2 linked regions of the Homo sapiens genome follow. The protein of the gene in region 1 interacts with the protein of each later gene in a biochemical or structural test. Each region holds a gene or a part of one and is shown on either strand. Other genes may lie near its edges.

Region 1 (7,024 bases):
TCCTGGGTTCAAGCAGTTCTCCTTCCTCAGTCCCTTGAGTAGCTGGGATTACAGGCGCCCGCCACCAAGCCTGGCTAATTTTTGTTTTTTAGTAGAGGCAGGTTTTCACCATGTTGGCCAGGCTGGTCTCGAACTCCTGACCTCAGGTGAGCCACCCGCCTCAGCCTCCCAAAGTGCTGGAATTACAGGAGTGAGCCACCATACCCAGCCTGTTTTGTCTTTTATAATAAAATGTGCATTGCACATAGTAAAACTATCAAATGGATTAAAATAACTGGGACACTTTTCCTAGCAAACTGTTTCCATCTAGCTTCTTTGGTGCATCAATTTTTTATAGTGAAGGGTGCTTGCAGTGTTTTATAAATTAGAGTTATAACTCACCAGATACTAACATATTAAAATTATGGTATTTAGGAACAAATACGGTCTCTGTCCTTTCAAGGCTAACAAAGAGACCTTTTAGATAGGACTATAGAGGATTTTAGGTTATGCAAAATGTAATTGCTTGGATTGGTATATATAGCCCTTCTATTGAGCTTAGAAATGCTTGTCACATCAGCATGGAATAGGCTGGGCACTGTGCCTCATGCCTGGAATCCTAGCACTTTAGGAGGCCAAGGTGAGAGTATCATTTTGGGCCAGGAGTTCAAGACCAGCCTGGGCAACACTGCGAGACCACATCTCTGCCAAAAAGAAAAAAATCGCTGGCCATGGTGACACATGCTTGTAGTCCTAGCTAACTGGGGGGCACTGAGGTGGGAGAATTGCTTGAGACAAGGAGTTTGAGGTTATAGTGAGCATGGTTGTACCACTGCACTCCAGCCTGGGCCACATAGCAAGACCCTGACTTAGAGAAGCATGGAGACCAGGAGTGATGGCTCACATCTAATATCAGCACTTTGGGAGCCCAAGGCTGGCAGATTACTGGAGGCCAGGAGTTCAAACCAACCATGCCAACATGGCAAAACCCTGTCTCTACTGAAGATACAAAAATTAGTTGGGCATGGTAGCATACCTGTAATCCCAGCTACTTGGGAGGCTGAGACATGAGAATCGGTTGAACCCAGGAGGCGGAGGCTACAGTGAGCTGAGATGTGCCCCTGCTGCACCCCAGCCTGGGCAACAGAGTGAGACTCTGCCTCAAAAAAAAAAAAAAAAAAAAAAAGCATGGAATGTCCGCCTGTGGGGTTTATTGTTGTTTTGCTTTAAGTAGATTATTTACATAATGTATGCAGAGGTGGAAAGTTTTGAATCTATAGGGATATTACTATTAAAATGAATTAACAGTCTTACACAATGGTTATGAGTTTAGCCAGTGTTAGCAGAAAGGCTAGAGATAAATCCAGTATAATTAGTTTAGAAGCTAAAGTTAAAGCTAAACTCAGCCCCCTCTCCATATGTTTTGGGTTTGTTTTTTTAGACGGAGTCTCACTCTGTCACCCCGGAGTGACAGGCTGGAGAACGGTGGCATGATCTTGGCTCACCGCAACCTCCACCTCCCAGGTTGAAGCAATTCTTCTGCCTTAGCCTCCCGAGTAGCTGGGATTACAGGTGCCTGCCACCATGCCCGGCTAATTTTTGTATTTTTAGTAGAGACGAGGTGTCATCATGTTGGCAAGGCTGATCTTTAACTCCTGACCTCAAGTGATCCACCTGCCTTGGCTTCCCAAAGTGCTAGGATTACAGGCATGAGCCACCGCACCCAGCCCTCTCCATATGTTAATAGGAGAAAAAGAGATGGTGTAATCCTCATGGAAGGCAAAAGGAGATTTCATAAACGCTGGTTTTCCATTTTTGTTTTATTGGTTTTGGTTTTTTTTTTTTTTTGAGAAAGTCTTGCTGTCGCCCAGGCTGGAGTGCAATGGCGCGATCACAGCTCACTGCAATCTTCACTTCCGGGGTTCAGGTGATCCTCCTGCCTCAGCCTCACAATGAGTAGATGGAACTACAGGCATGCGTCACCACACCTAGCTAATGTTTTCACATTTTTAGTAGAGATGAGGTTTTGCAATATTGGCCAGGCTGGTCTCGAACTCGGCCTCAAGTGATCTGCCCACCTCAGTCCCCCAAAGTGGTGGGATTATAGGTGTGAGTCACTGCACCCAACCCAATTTTCTTTCTTTTTTTTTTTTTGGGGGGACAGAGTTTCACTCTTGCTGCCCTGATTGGACTGCAACGGCGTCATCTTGCCTCTCTGCAACCCCTGCTTCCCAGGTTCAAGCGACTATCCTGCCTCAGCCTCCCAAGTAGCTGGGGTTACAGGCATGTGCCGTCAGGCCTAGCAATTTTTTTTAAGTAGAGATGGGGTTTCACCACGCTGGTCAGGCTGGTCTCCAACTCCTGACCTCAGGTGATCCTCCAGCTTCAGCCTCCCAAAGTGCTGGGATTAACAGGCGTGAGCCACCACACCTGGCCCAGTTCTCCTTTCAAATGAGGGAATACATATGTGTTTATTCCTGATTCAGGATAAGTGTAGGGCACCCTCCACCCACTTGTAGTTTTTGTTTTTTAAAAGTTTTTTTTTTTTTTTGAGACCAGTTCTTGCTTTGTCATTCAGGCTGGAGTGCTGTGGCGTGATCTCAGCTCACACAGCCTTGACTTCGCAGGCTCAGGTGATCCTCCCACCTCAGTCTCCATGGTGGATGGAACCACAGATACATGCTACCACACACCCAGGTTATTTTTTGTAGAGATGGGGTCTTACCTTGTTGCCCAGGCTGGTCTCAAACTTCTGAACTCAGGTGATGCATCCACCCCGGCCTCCCAAAGTGCTGGGATTACAGGTGTGAGTCACCATACCTGGTCCCCCCATTTGTAGTTGTGTTTTGTTTTTTTGTTTGGACAGAGTTTTTGCTCTTGTTGTCCAGACTGGAATGCAATGGCTTGATCTCGTGAACCCCAATCCTATTTCAGACAGCCCCAATCCTATTTCGGACAGCCCCTTTATGATTCTCAAATTAGTGCTGTGTAAATGGGTATTTTAAGAATCAGGCCGGGCGCGGTGGCTCATGCCTGTAATCCCAACACTTTGGGAGGCCGAGGAGGGCGGATCACGAGGTCAGGAGATCCAGACCTTCCTGGCTAACAGAGTGAAACCCCGTCTCTACTAAAAATACAAAAAATTAGCCGGATGAGGTGGCGGGAGCCTGTAGTCCCAGCTACTCGGGAGGCTGAGGCAGGAGAATGGCGTGAACCCGGGAGGCGGAGCCTGCAGTGAGCAAAGATCACGCCACTGCACTCCAGCCTGGGCAACAGAGTGAGACTCCATCTCAAAAAAAAAAAAAAAAAAAAAAAAGAATCAGCCGGGTGCAGTGGCTCATGCCTGTAATCCCAGCACTTTGGGAGGCCAAGGCGGCAGATCTCCTGAGGTCAGGAATTTGAGACCAGCCTGACCAACATGGCGAAACCCCATCTCTACTTAAAAAAAAAAATACAAAAATTAGCCAGGTACGGTGGCATGCGCCTGTAATCCCAGGTACTCAGGGGGCTGAGGCAGGAGAATCGCTTGAACACCCAGGAGGCAGAGCTTGCAGTGAGCCGAAATCACACCATTGCACTCCAGCCTGGGCGACAGAGCAAGACTCCATCTCAAAAAAAAAGAGTCTCACTCTGTAACCCAGGCTGGAGTGCAGCAGTGGCGCATTCTCGGCTCACTGCAACCTCCTCGCCTCCTGGGTTCAAACCATTCTCCTGCCTCAGCCTCCCAAGTAGCTGGGATTACAGGCACCCGCCACGGTGCCCAGCTAATTTTTGTATTTTTAGTAGAGACAGGGTTTCACCATGTTGGCCAGGCTAGTCTGGAACTCCTGACCACAAGTGACCTGCCCGCCTTGGCCTCCAAAAGTGCTGGGATTACATGTGTGAGCCACCGTGCCCAGCTGACATTGGCACTATCAAATGAAGTGTGGCTTCATGTGAATGAGCACCTGAGGCACAGAAAAGCCCCAACAGCACATTTTATTCAGCTTCAGAATACAAAATGGGAAAAGAGCATATGCTGAAGGTGAAGTTAAAATATCAATGAGCAAGTGGCTCCAATTCCAGCACTCTGGGAGGCTGAGGAGGGAAGACTGCTTGAGCCCAAGAGTTTGAGACAAGATAAGCCTTAGCAACATTGTGAGACCCCCGTCTCTAAAAAAAATTAAGTTAGCTGGGTGTGGTGGTGCACACCTGTAGTCCCAACTACTGGGGGACCAAGGCAGGAGGATGGCTTGATCCCAAGTTTGAGGCTGCAGACAGTGATGACACCACTGCACTCCAGCCTGGGCAAAGTAGTGAGACAGTGTCTCAGAAAAGAAGAAATATTCCCGGAAAACCGCAAGTTCAAAGGTATACCAAGGATCGGGTGCAGCAGCTCACACCTGTAAACCCAGGACTTTGGGAGGAAGATCACTTGAGCCCAGGAGTTCAAGACCAACCTGGACAACACGGTAAGATCCCGTCTCCATTTAAAAGAAAAAAAAAAAAAAAGGCCGGGCGTGGTGGCTCACACCTGTAATCCTAGCACTTTGGAAGGCCAAGGTGGGATGATTGCCTGAGCAAAACGGCGAAACCCCATTTCTACTAAAATACAAAAAATTAGCTGGGCATAGCGGCACATGCCTGTAGTCCCAGCTACTTGGGAGTCTGAGAGAGGAGAATCGCTTGAACCTAGGAGGCAGAGGTTGCAGTGAGCCAAGATCGCGCCACTGCACTGCAGTCTGGGCAACAGAATGAGACTCCGCCTCAAGAAAAAAAAAAAAATTTACAAAGGTATACCGAGGAAGCAGGGAAGCAGCCTCATTCTAGAATCTATCATTGCCGGCTGCGGCAGTAGCTCACGCCTGTAATCCCAGCACTCTAGGAGTCTGAGGCGCGTGGATCATGAGGTCAGGAGTTCAAGACCAGCCTGGCCAAGATGGTGAAACCCCATCGCTACTAAAAATATATAAAATTAGGCCAGATGCAGTGGCTCACACCTGTAATCCCAGCACTTTCTGAGGCCGAGGCGGGTGATCACCTGAAGTCGGGAGTTTGAGACCAGCCTGACCAACATGGAGAAACCCCATCTCTACTAATTAGCCGGGCATGGTGGCGCATGCCTGTGATCGCAGCTACCCGGGAGGCTGAGGCAGGAGAATTGCTTGAACACAGGAGGCGGAGGTTGCGGTGAGCCGAGACCGTGACATTGCACTTCAGCCTGGGCAACAAGAGAGAAACTCTGTCTCAAAAAAAAAAAAAAAAAAAAAAAAAAAATTAGCCAGGCATGGCGGCAGGCACCTGGAATCCCAGCTACTCAGGAAGCTGAGGCAGAGAACTACTTCAACCCAGAAGGCGGAGGTTGCAGTGAGCCGAGATCGCACCAGTTCACTCCAGCCTGGGCGACAGAGCCAGACTCCATCTCAAAAAAACAAACAAAAACCAAAACTATGGGCCGGGCGCGGTGGCTCACGCCTGTAATCCCAGCACTTTGGGAGGCCGAGGCAGGCGGATCACGAGATCAGGAGATCGAGACCATTCTGGCTAACACGGTGAAACCCCGTCTCTACTAAAAATACAAAAAATTAGCCGGGCGAGGTGGCGGGTGCCTGTAGTCCCAGCTACTCGGGAGGCTGAGGCAAGAGAATGGCGTGAACCCCAGGGGGCGGAGCCTGCAGTGAGCCGAGATCGCGCCACTGCACTCCAGCCTGGGCGACAGCGAAACTCCGTCTCAAAAAAAAAAAAAACAAAAAAAACAAACAAAAAAAACCCCAAAACTGTAATTGCCGATCCACACAGTAAATAGTAAAAAGTTCAATACACTATTTCCATAGCAAAATATGCTCACTAGAGTATTTTTTGAGCTCACGTAAATATGATCTTAGGTGTTTAACAGCGAGATTGGTTCTGAACAGTTGATATTTACAAAGGTTTTTTTTCCCCTGAAAAGAGACAATCGCTAACCACAAGACCCAAAAATGATAGCTTGTAGATTTTTAAACCGAGAAAATCCAATTAGTCAGGAGAATCTTAATTTAGCAATAAAACACTGGCTTGCACTCAAGAAATTTTTCACTTCCAGTTTCTACTGCCTTCTAGTTAAAGTCTAACTGAACACAGGAAGAAAAATTAAAAATCCAGTTGCCAGGTTACAGTGCACAGGAAATCAATACTGAACAAAGGCCACCCACCATCAGATACTCAAGTTATAGCAATTAACAATATAGCATATGTTCACTACGACAATTTGTTTTGCAGGCTAAAGATGGACAATTTTATTTTGGAGATTCGTTCCTACACAGCTGAATGACAGGAAGATTTTTACCAAAATCAGAGACGCAAGTTTCTGGACAACTTCCTAATTATATACAAGACATTAGACAGGAAAAACAACAACTTCCAACATCTCTAAAATAAATAAAACATTTTACTTTTTCTCTATTTTTAATCGGTCGAACGACAATGATTCAAAAAGAAAATGCGAAGTAGCACCCTCTGGCAAGGTTAGTTAAGCGGAAAATCTTAAGTGGGGGAAGGTCCTAAAAATCCCAGCCTTCTCCAAGATAGGTCCGAAATTAAGAGCTTTTATGTAAATTATGAGACAAACTTTTATAACTTAGGATTTAAAGAAATGTAACTACGAAATCGCTGAAGAGCAAATGAGTAAATCAAATGAGAAAACACACTCCCAAGCCTTTAAGACACCCAGCATAAATCTCTCTCTCCCCAGAGCTTAAAAAAAATTTATTAGCCAGGCATGGTGGTGCTTGCCTGCAGTCCCAGCTACTCGGGAGACTGAGGCAAGGAGGATCGCTTGAGCCCGGGAGGTAGAGGTTGCAGCTGCACTCCAGCCTGGGTGACAGAGGAAGACCCTGTCTCCAAAAAAAACACTTTTAAAACAAGTTATCAACAAAATAAACCCTTATCAGCCAGATTCTTAAGACTGGATGACGACCCATTAAAGGCTTCTTCCACTTCAAATAACTGACTTACAACTTTCATTTTAAAATTTAAGTCTTTAGCTTGTTAAGAGTCCCTGAAGAATTTACTAAACGGCATATATTAT
Region 2 (6,641 bases), on another chromosome or scaffold:
GGCTCCTGTGCCTCTCCCTATCAGTTGGCCAGTGGAGCTCGAGAACAAACTGTTGCTGCCAGATAAAGCAGCAAAGCCTGCTCCACTGCCCAGCGCAGGCCCCCTTCCCTTCCTCCACCAGGCTGAGTGGAGAACCCTAAAGCTACGGGACAGGCTCCCGTTCCCCGTGCCTACACAGGGTGCTGGCTCTGGCAGAAAGACAGTGTGCCCGCCCCGCATCACCTGTCCGAGTGCGAACACCTTGGGAAGGGGGTTCCTGGTGGTCCTGTGACAACCAGAGACCCCCAGGGCCAAGGTGAGGCGCCCACCCCTGGTCCCTCAATAAAGAACTGCAAGCACATGCTGGTCCTGGGGAGTCGGGCAGGCACGGAGCTAGCTGCAAGCATCCGTCTTCCCCCAGGAGGCCACTGCAGCCCGGCCCTTCTGTGCCCTGGGCCCCTCCTCATTGCAGCACCACCCACCGCACCACCCTGGGACAGAGGAAACACATGGAGGCCATAGCATAGAGCCTGTCTGTTTATAGATCTCTGCCTGTCTTGTCCGTCCATCCACTGTGTGTATATATCTGTGTATCTCTGTGGAGCGGGGAACGGGACAGTTGTGTAAAAATCCAAAATACAATTCTGACTATGAACAACCTGCAGGGTCAGTCCAGGTGTGGCTGTGAAGCCCCAACCAAACCACAGGACACGGGGTTGGGGGAAGGCAGACTGGCAGGCCAGGGTGACCCTCCTGACCAGAGGTGCTGCCCAGACCCGAGCCCGTTTGTCCTACTGGGGCTATGGCGGCCGACCCACCAGTGCCCAAGACCGCGAGGCTGCCCTGCCTCCCCAAGACCAGCCCTGCACTGGGGGTGGGGGTGGGCGGCTGGCCCAGCTCCTCCGGGGCCTCTAGGAGACAGTGGGGTCCTTGGCTTTGGGAGGCTCCGAGCCTGTCAGCAGGGAGATGGTGGGGTCCTCGGCGAAGCCGTCCCCTTCGGAGAAGTAGGAGCCCTCTCCCAGCTCAAACAGCACCGGCAGGTCGTTGCTCCCGGTGTCCACGGAGCCGGGGTCCAGCAGGAACAGCGGCTGCGCTGTGTAGTGCACCAGCTGCTTCCCTGCGGGGGTGGGGGTGTCAAGGCGGTGGGGGGTTGGGGGCAGAGGTGGGGCCGGTGGGACTTGGCTCACCTGAATCCGGGCTGCTGTTCTCTGCCTCGGGAGGCCTGGGGGGCTCCTGGGGAGACAGGAGCTCTTGGATCTGTGGGGTGGAGACGGTATTGTGAGCACTCCCGCTGGTCTCGTTCCCCCTCACCCCCCGCCCGCCTACGCACACTGGCCAGGCTGCTGTCAAGGTCAGGCAGGCTCATGTCGGGCACGGTCACCGAGGGGCTGAACAGCTGCGGAGGAGGGAGGGAAGTCAGAACAGCACCCGGGGGCGGGGCGGGGAGGCGGGGCGGGGAGGCGGGGCGGGGAGGCGGGGAGGCGGGGCGGGGAGGCGGGGAGGCGCGGGGAGGCGGGGCGGGGAGGCGGGGCGGCGGCGCGGGGAGGCGGGGAGGCGGGGCGGGGAGGCGGGGCGGCGCGGCGGGGAGGCGGGGCGGGGAGGCGGGGCGGCGGGGCTCCACTCACGTCCAGCAGGGCACTGGTGTCCACGCTGAAGCCGTGGCTGCTCAGCATGGTCTGCAGGTTATCCAGGTTGGAGTCCATAGCATCCAAGTGGTCACTGAGCTCATTCCTGGCCCGGGATAAGGCGGTACCTGAACCAGTGCCCCAGGCCCCACACCCCAATGCCCTCCTGTGGGAGAAGGGCTCCCCTTGACTGTACCCCCCAGGCTGCACCCCCGTGTACGCCTGCACAGGCTGGAGGGGGCAGCGCATTCGAGGACGGCCTGGAAGGCAGTGGAGGCTCTGTGCCCTGCAGGGGTGCGGCTGGGCCTATGCTGGGCATCCCTTTGCCATGAGGGCCTGGGGGCCTTGGTGGCAGTGGACCCAGGAGACAAGGGGCGTATTCAGCTCCAGCACAAGGATCAGGGATTTCAGTGTTCAGGGTTGGTGAGGTTTCCCGTTGCACTGGGAAAACAGGTGGGGCTCTGCTCAGTGTGTGGGTGGCTCAGTCCCTGCCCTGGTGCTGCTGTGGGGATGAGACCCACGGTCTGGTGGCTGTGACCAAGAAAGCCCTAGGCCACAGGGCACACCTGGGCTATGGGACGGACAGCCAGGCTGGGTCCCAGAGGTGCCCTGGAGACCCTGCCTGACAGGAAGTGCAGTCAGCACCGCAGTCTGGATCCTGCCAACACCAGAGGCCGTGCCAGAGCAGGGAGGCCTGTCCCTGTCATCCCTGTCACAGGCAATGACCACAGGCCCGTGGCCAGGGGAGCCATGACGACACTGAGCCCCCGCCACAGAGGGGTCTCGGCTGCTGCCGCCCAGGCCCGACGCTCATGCCCGGCCAGGCTGGGTCTGGTCCACGGCTGTGTGGGAGGGCCCGAGCGCTGGCAGAGCCCTCCTCCCTCCCCAGTGGGGTCAGCGCTAACCCTGGCTGGACTTGGCCATGCGGAGAGGAAGAGGGGCAGGGGAAGAGGCGGGCGACCCTAGACATCTGTGGAGTGCGAGCCAAACTGCAAGATACAAAAACAAGAGCCCCCATTGCAGGCAGGGGCTGGGGGTGTGGAGGCCGGCCCTGCTCACCATCTCCTGCCATGTGTCTGGGCAGCACGACCTGCCAGGGCCCGTGGCCTGTGGCGAGGGTGGCGGCAGCAGGACGGGTGGCTGAGAGCAGGGCCCGGCAGCCTGTCCGGACATGCCCGTGGCTTCTGTGGCGTTTGGGACTGTGGGGTGATCTGGCTGGCACCTGTCTCCCTCCCCAGCCCCGAGCTCCGAGGTTGGGGGTAGGGTCCTGCCTCGCCAGCTGCCCTGCTCAGTCCACTGGGACAGTCGGGGCTGAAGCCCAGGGCTGTGCGTCCAGGCGCTGTGGGTGGGGCCAGGGGTGGGCGGCACTCACTTGTCCAGGCAGGCTACGCTGAGGCACTTTTCAGGGGTGGAGGTGGGCGGGGGGGAGGGAGGCCGGCCCTCGGTGTCCGTGTGGCCCCTGGCGTCCGTGAGGGCTGTGACGGAGGCGGGGGCAGGTTCACTCTCCCGCAGGATGGAGTCAATGAGGGCGGTCGGGGACAAGAGGGTGTCCACGGAAGATGGGCGCCCGGGACTCGCCTCCTCTACCCGGGGGCTCTGAGGCGGGCTGGGGGGCTCCTCCTTGACACGCACCAGGGGGCTGCTGGATAGGGGCCTGCACACGAGGGGGGCCAGGTGAGCTGGCGTCTCGGCCAGCCCCACCTCATCCCCAACTCTGCCCTGGGCCCACAGGGGCTCGCCTCATTGGGGGACAGGATGGCTGGGGTGATGCGGCCCCCACCTCTCGTCTATGCTCCCGCCGGGGGAGGCCATGGGGCTGGCAGGAGCCAGCTCGGTGATGTCGGAGATGATGGGTCCAGAGCTGGCCACAGCATCAGGGGCGTAGAGGCTGGAGCTGCTGTAGGCTGGGGAGGGGGCCTGCAATCAAAGGCAGGAGGTCCATGCAGTGCCGGCAGGGGCAACCCACCCCACTGCCGCCTGCATGCCTGGGCGGGTGCCCTGTCTCCGGCACTCACCGAGTAGGGGCCCGAGCCGTGGACGTGCTCCAGGGAGAACTGCCGGCTATACTTGGGCATGGAATGTGCTGAGCCACTGTCGTTCAGCATCAGGGGGCTGTGGGGAAGGGTGCAGGTCAGCCACCACCCCCCACCTCGGGGTACCCGGGGCACAGCTGACAGAGAAGGGGGACAGCCCTGGGCCCCGGGTGGTGGATGCAGGCATCCCCAAAACCTCACATCTTTCTCTTCACCCCCAGGATCCGGTTTGACTGCACCAGTGAGATCAGGAACTGAATGAGCTGTGGAGAGAGAGGACACAGTTACCCCGGCCCTTGTGGGGCCCCCGCCGGCCCTCTGGCCCTGCCCCCACCTTGTTGACGACTTTCTGTTGCTGGGCATGCTTCTGCCGAAGGCTGGCCACCTCCCGCCACAGAGCCTCATTCTCACTGCAACAGACCAGGCTGGGTCAGTGGGGCCCAATCCCATGAGCCCCAGGGCTGAGGGAGCCCCACAGACCCTCCCTGTCCCCCATGCAGGAGCAGGGGTAAGTGTGACCATGTCTGGCCTGGCCCACCCCAGGATGAGAACTTGTGTGTGGAGGGACTGGGGGCCAGGGCCAGGGCTTGCTGGTCCCACTGCCCCTCCCTGCCGGGGACACCTGGTGTCACGTAGGGTGTTGGGGATGGATCCATGCGAGCCAGGTGCACCCGGATCCTGGCATCCATCCTGGCAAACACCTGGAGGGCTGCCTTGGACACAGGCCAGGAGCAGACCCTTGGGCCGCCCTTCCAAGGCCTGAGCAGCCAGGTTAAGGGAGGACGGTTCTTCAGGCTGCGACACTGGCTGTCCCATGTCCTGTAGGTGCTCAGGGCCCTCGCCAGGCCTGGAGGTGGCTCAGGGGTGGGGAAGAGCTGTCCCCAGCCAGGTGAGCAGGGCCATGACCGCGCTCCTGCTGCTCTGGGAGGCTGGGCCCTGTCAAGCCTGTGAGTCTTCTTGGTAGGCCAGGTCCACGTGGCCGGACTCCAGGAATCACAAAGCCGGTGGCTCCTGCTAGACCCCATGCAGGAGAGTCTGAGGCCAAGGCCTCCTCCATGACGTGGGGGTCAAGAGCGCCTGCTGCACGGAGCCGAGGAAGCCGTACTGGCATTGGGGTTCCCGCATGCCTGGAGCCCCAAAGTGGACGTGAGACCTGAGCTGGCCTTCCGAGGTGGGCTTGCCTCAGTTTCTCAGGTGCCACCGTGTGTTAGGCTCCTGCTAAGGTTTCCCCAGAGCCGCAGGGTCCCGGTGAGGAGGGGCTGGGGGCTAGCTCCATGGGCCCAGGCGAGTGTGGGACAGCGGTTCCAGGAAGGGCCTGAGGTGGGTCTGACCCCAGGCCCGAGGCGGGTGGGACGGGTCTGCTGTGCAAGGCTTGTCCTCAAAAGTAGGCTGGTGGGTCCCGCCAAGCTCGGAGCCAGGCAGAAGCCAATGGCCCAGAGGGCGCTGGGGATGTGCAGAGCAGGGGACCCTCCCAACCCCCTTCTGCACATGGAAAACGGCTGGCCCCAGAGCTGTTGCAGCAGCCACGGGCGGCGGGGCTGGGGCAGAGGCCCAGGGTAGATGTGCGTGGAGCGGGAGGGTGGAGCTGAGCACCTGGCCCCGGTCAGGGCCCTGCCCCCACAGCACCCGGGGCCTCTTGGTGGGCGCCAGGACCCGCTGTGGCCCATAATGCTGGTGTGGGACCTACTGCTTCATGGCCAGGAGCTTGGAGTCCATGCACTCCTGCTTCCCCTTCATCAGCTGCACGTCCGTCAGCAGCTTGGTGACGCTGTCCTGGCGGATCTTTATGTCTTCACTCTTCAGGGTGGACACCTGGATTCCCGAGAGGGACAGGAGTCACTGGAGCAGCCTAGGAGCTTGGCAGGCTCAGGCTCGTCCACTGCAGCCAGGTCCCTCAGGAAGGGGCAGGCTGGGGTGGGAGCCCTCAGGGAGGGGCGGGCGGGGAGAGCTGTGGCAGGTGAGACCGGGCAAGGGTGCAGGGCCGGCACTCACACTGGTCACTTTCCTCTTGATGTTCTCAAGGAGCTGCTCCTGGCCACGCAGGAAGCATGGGTGCTGGAACTCCGTGTCGTCTCTCTCTGGCTTGACCAGGCCGCCCTGCTCGATGTGGACCACTTTCCGGAAGCCATCTGCACATAACAGGGAAGGGGGCAGCTCTGCCTCAGGGCGGGACCAGAACCCCTGAAGAGCGGCCACTGCTCCAGGAGGCTGCTGCGGGGCTTGGCCATGGTCAGACCCTGCCCTGCCCCCTCAGAGCCCATGCCTGGGTGGCCGAGTGGCCTTGGTCTAAGGGAGACCCTGTGTCCCCACAGGGCTCCCTGCGCCCGACACACGTGGAGTACAGCTCCGGCTTCACGGTTCTTCCATGGGGACCCCAGGTTCATACCCACAAGGACCCTCCCCCATGGAAGAGGCGGCTGCTCCCCGGCCCCCAGGCTTGCAGGGTCCCACGCCATGCCCTTGGCCAGCACAGGACGCCCCGTCCTTCATCACAGGGTCCTCCTGCTGGGGTCCCGCCATCTGCAGGTCTGCCTCCCGCACCCCTGCGCTGCCTGGAGGCAGCACTCACACATGTTGAGCTGCCGCACGAAGCTGGCCATGTTGTTGTGCTTGAAGTACTTGGGCAGCACCTCCTTGGCAAACTGGCCCTGGTCGAACACGTGGAAGCTGTTCCCGCTCTGAAAGGGAGACACATGGGTGGGTCACGCGTGGTGGTGAGGGGCAGCGTGCCCAAGCCGCCCCTTCCCCAGGCCGCCCCTTCTGAAACGCAGGCAGTGCACGTTCCACCTGATGGGGCTGGGGCCATGGGAGGCCCAGGGGGCTGGCGGGAGGCGAGTTCGTTCCTGGGACCACCTGCCACACGGGCCTCATCTGTGCAGCGTGACCTGCATCCTCACTGTGAGGCCCAGGACTGGGCGGTGGGCAGATGCGAGGCCTTCCTCTCAGTCGGAAAGCCCCTCCCCAGGGCTTCCAGAGAAGGCCACGTTTCCACTCACAAAGCATC

What was found. Proteins that work in one complex are often made in the same cells at the same time.
Region 2: the proteins of PTGES3 (region 1) and HSF1 form a complex in vitro, tested with the Homo sapiens proteins (2 studies listed by BioGRID).

Annotation. Positions count from the first base shown.
Region 1 is NC_000012.12:56,678,267-56,685,290, forward strand, and holds part of PTGES3 (prostaglandin E synthase 3), read right to left. Parts: intron 1-7,024. UniProt on the Homo sapiens protein: Cytosolic prostaglandin synthase that catalyzes the oxidoreduction of prostaglandin endoperoxide H2 (PGH2) to prostaglandin E2 (PGE2).
Region 2 is NC_000008.11:144,308,580-144,315,220, reverse strand, and holds the end of HSF1 (heat shock factor protein 1), read right to left. Parts: exon of another isoform or gene 6,316-6,641; coding exon 6,207-6,315; intron 5,767-6,206; coding exon 5,630-5,766; intron 5,450-5,629; coding exon 5,325-5,449; intron 4,048-5,324; coding exon 3,972-4,047; intron 3,901-3,971; coding exon 3,839-3,900; intron 3,717-3,838; coding exon 3,620-3,716; intron 3,522-3,619; coding exon 3,385-3,521; coding exon of another isoform or gene 3,344-3,384; intron 3,259-3,343; coding exon 2,977-3,258; intron 2,594-2,976; coding exon of another isoform or gene 2,510-2,593; intron 1,711-2,509; coding exon 1,605-1,710; intron 1,376-1,604; coding exon 1,310-1,375; intron 1,237-1,309; coding exon 1,167-1,236; intron 1,097-1,166; coding exon 891-1,096; 3' UTR 501-890; downstream 1-500. UniProt on the Homo sapiens protein: Functions as a stress-inducible and DNA-binding transcription factor that plays a central role in the transcriptional activation of the heat shock response (HSR), leading to the expression of a large class of molecular chaperones, heat shock proteins (HSPs), that protect cells from cellular insult damage.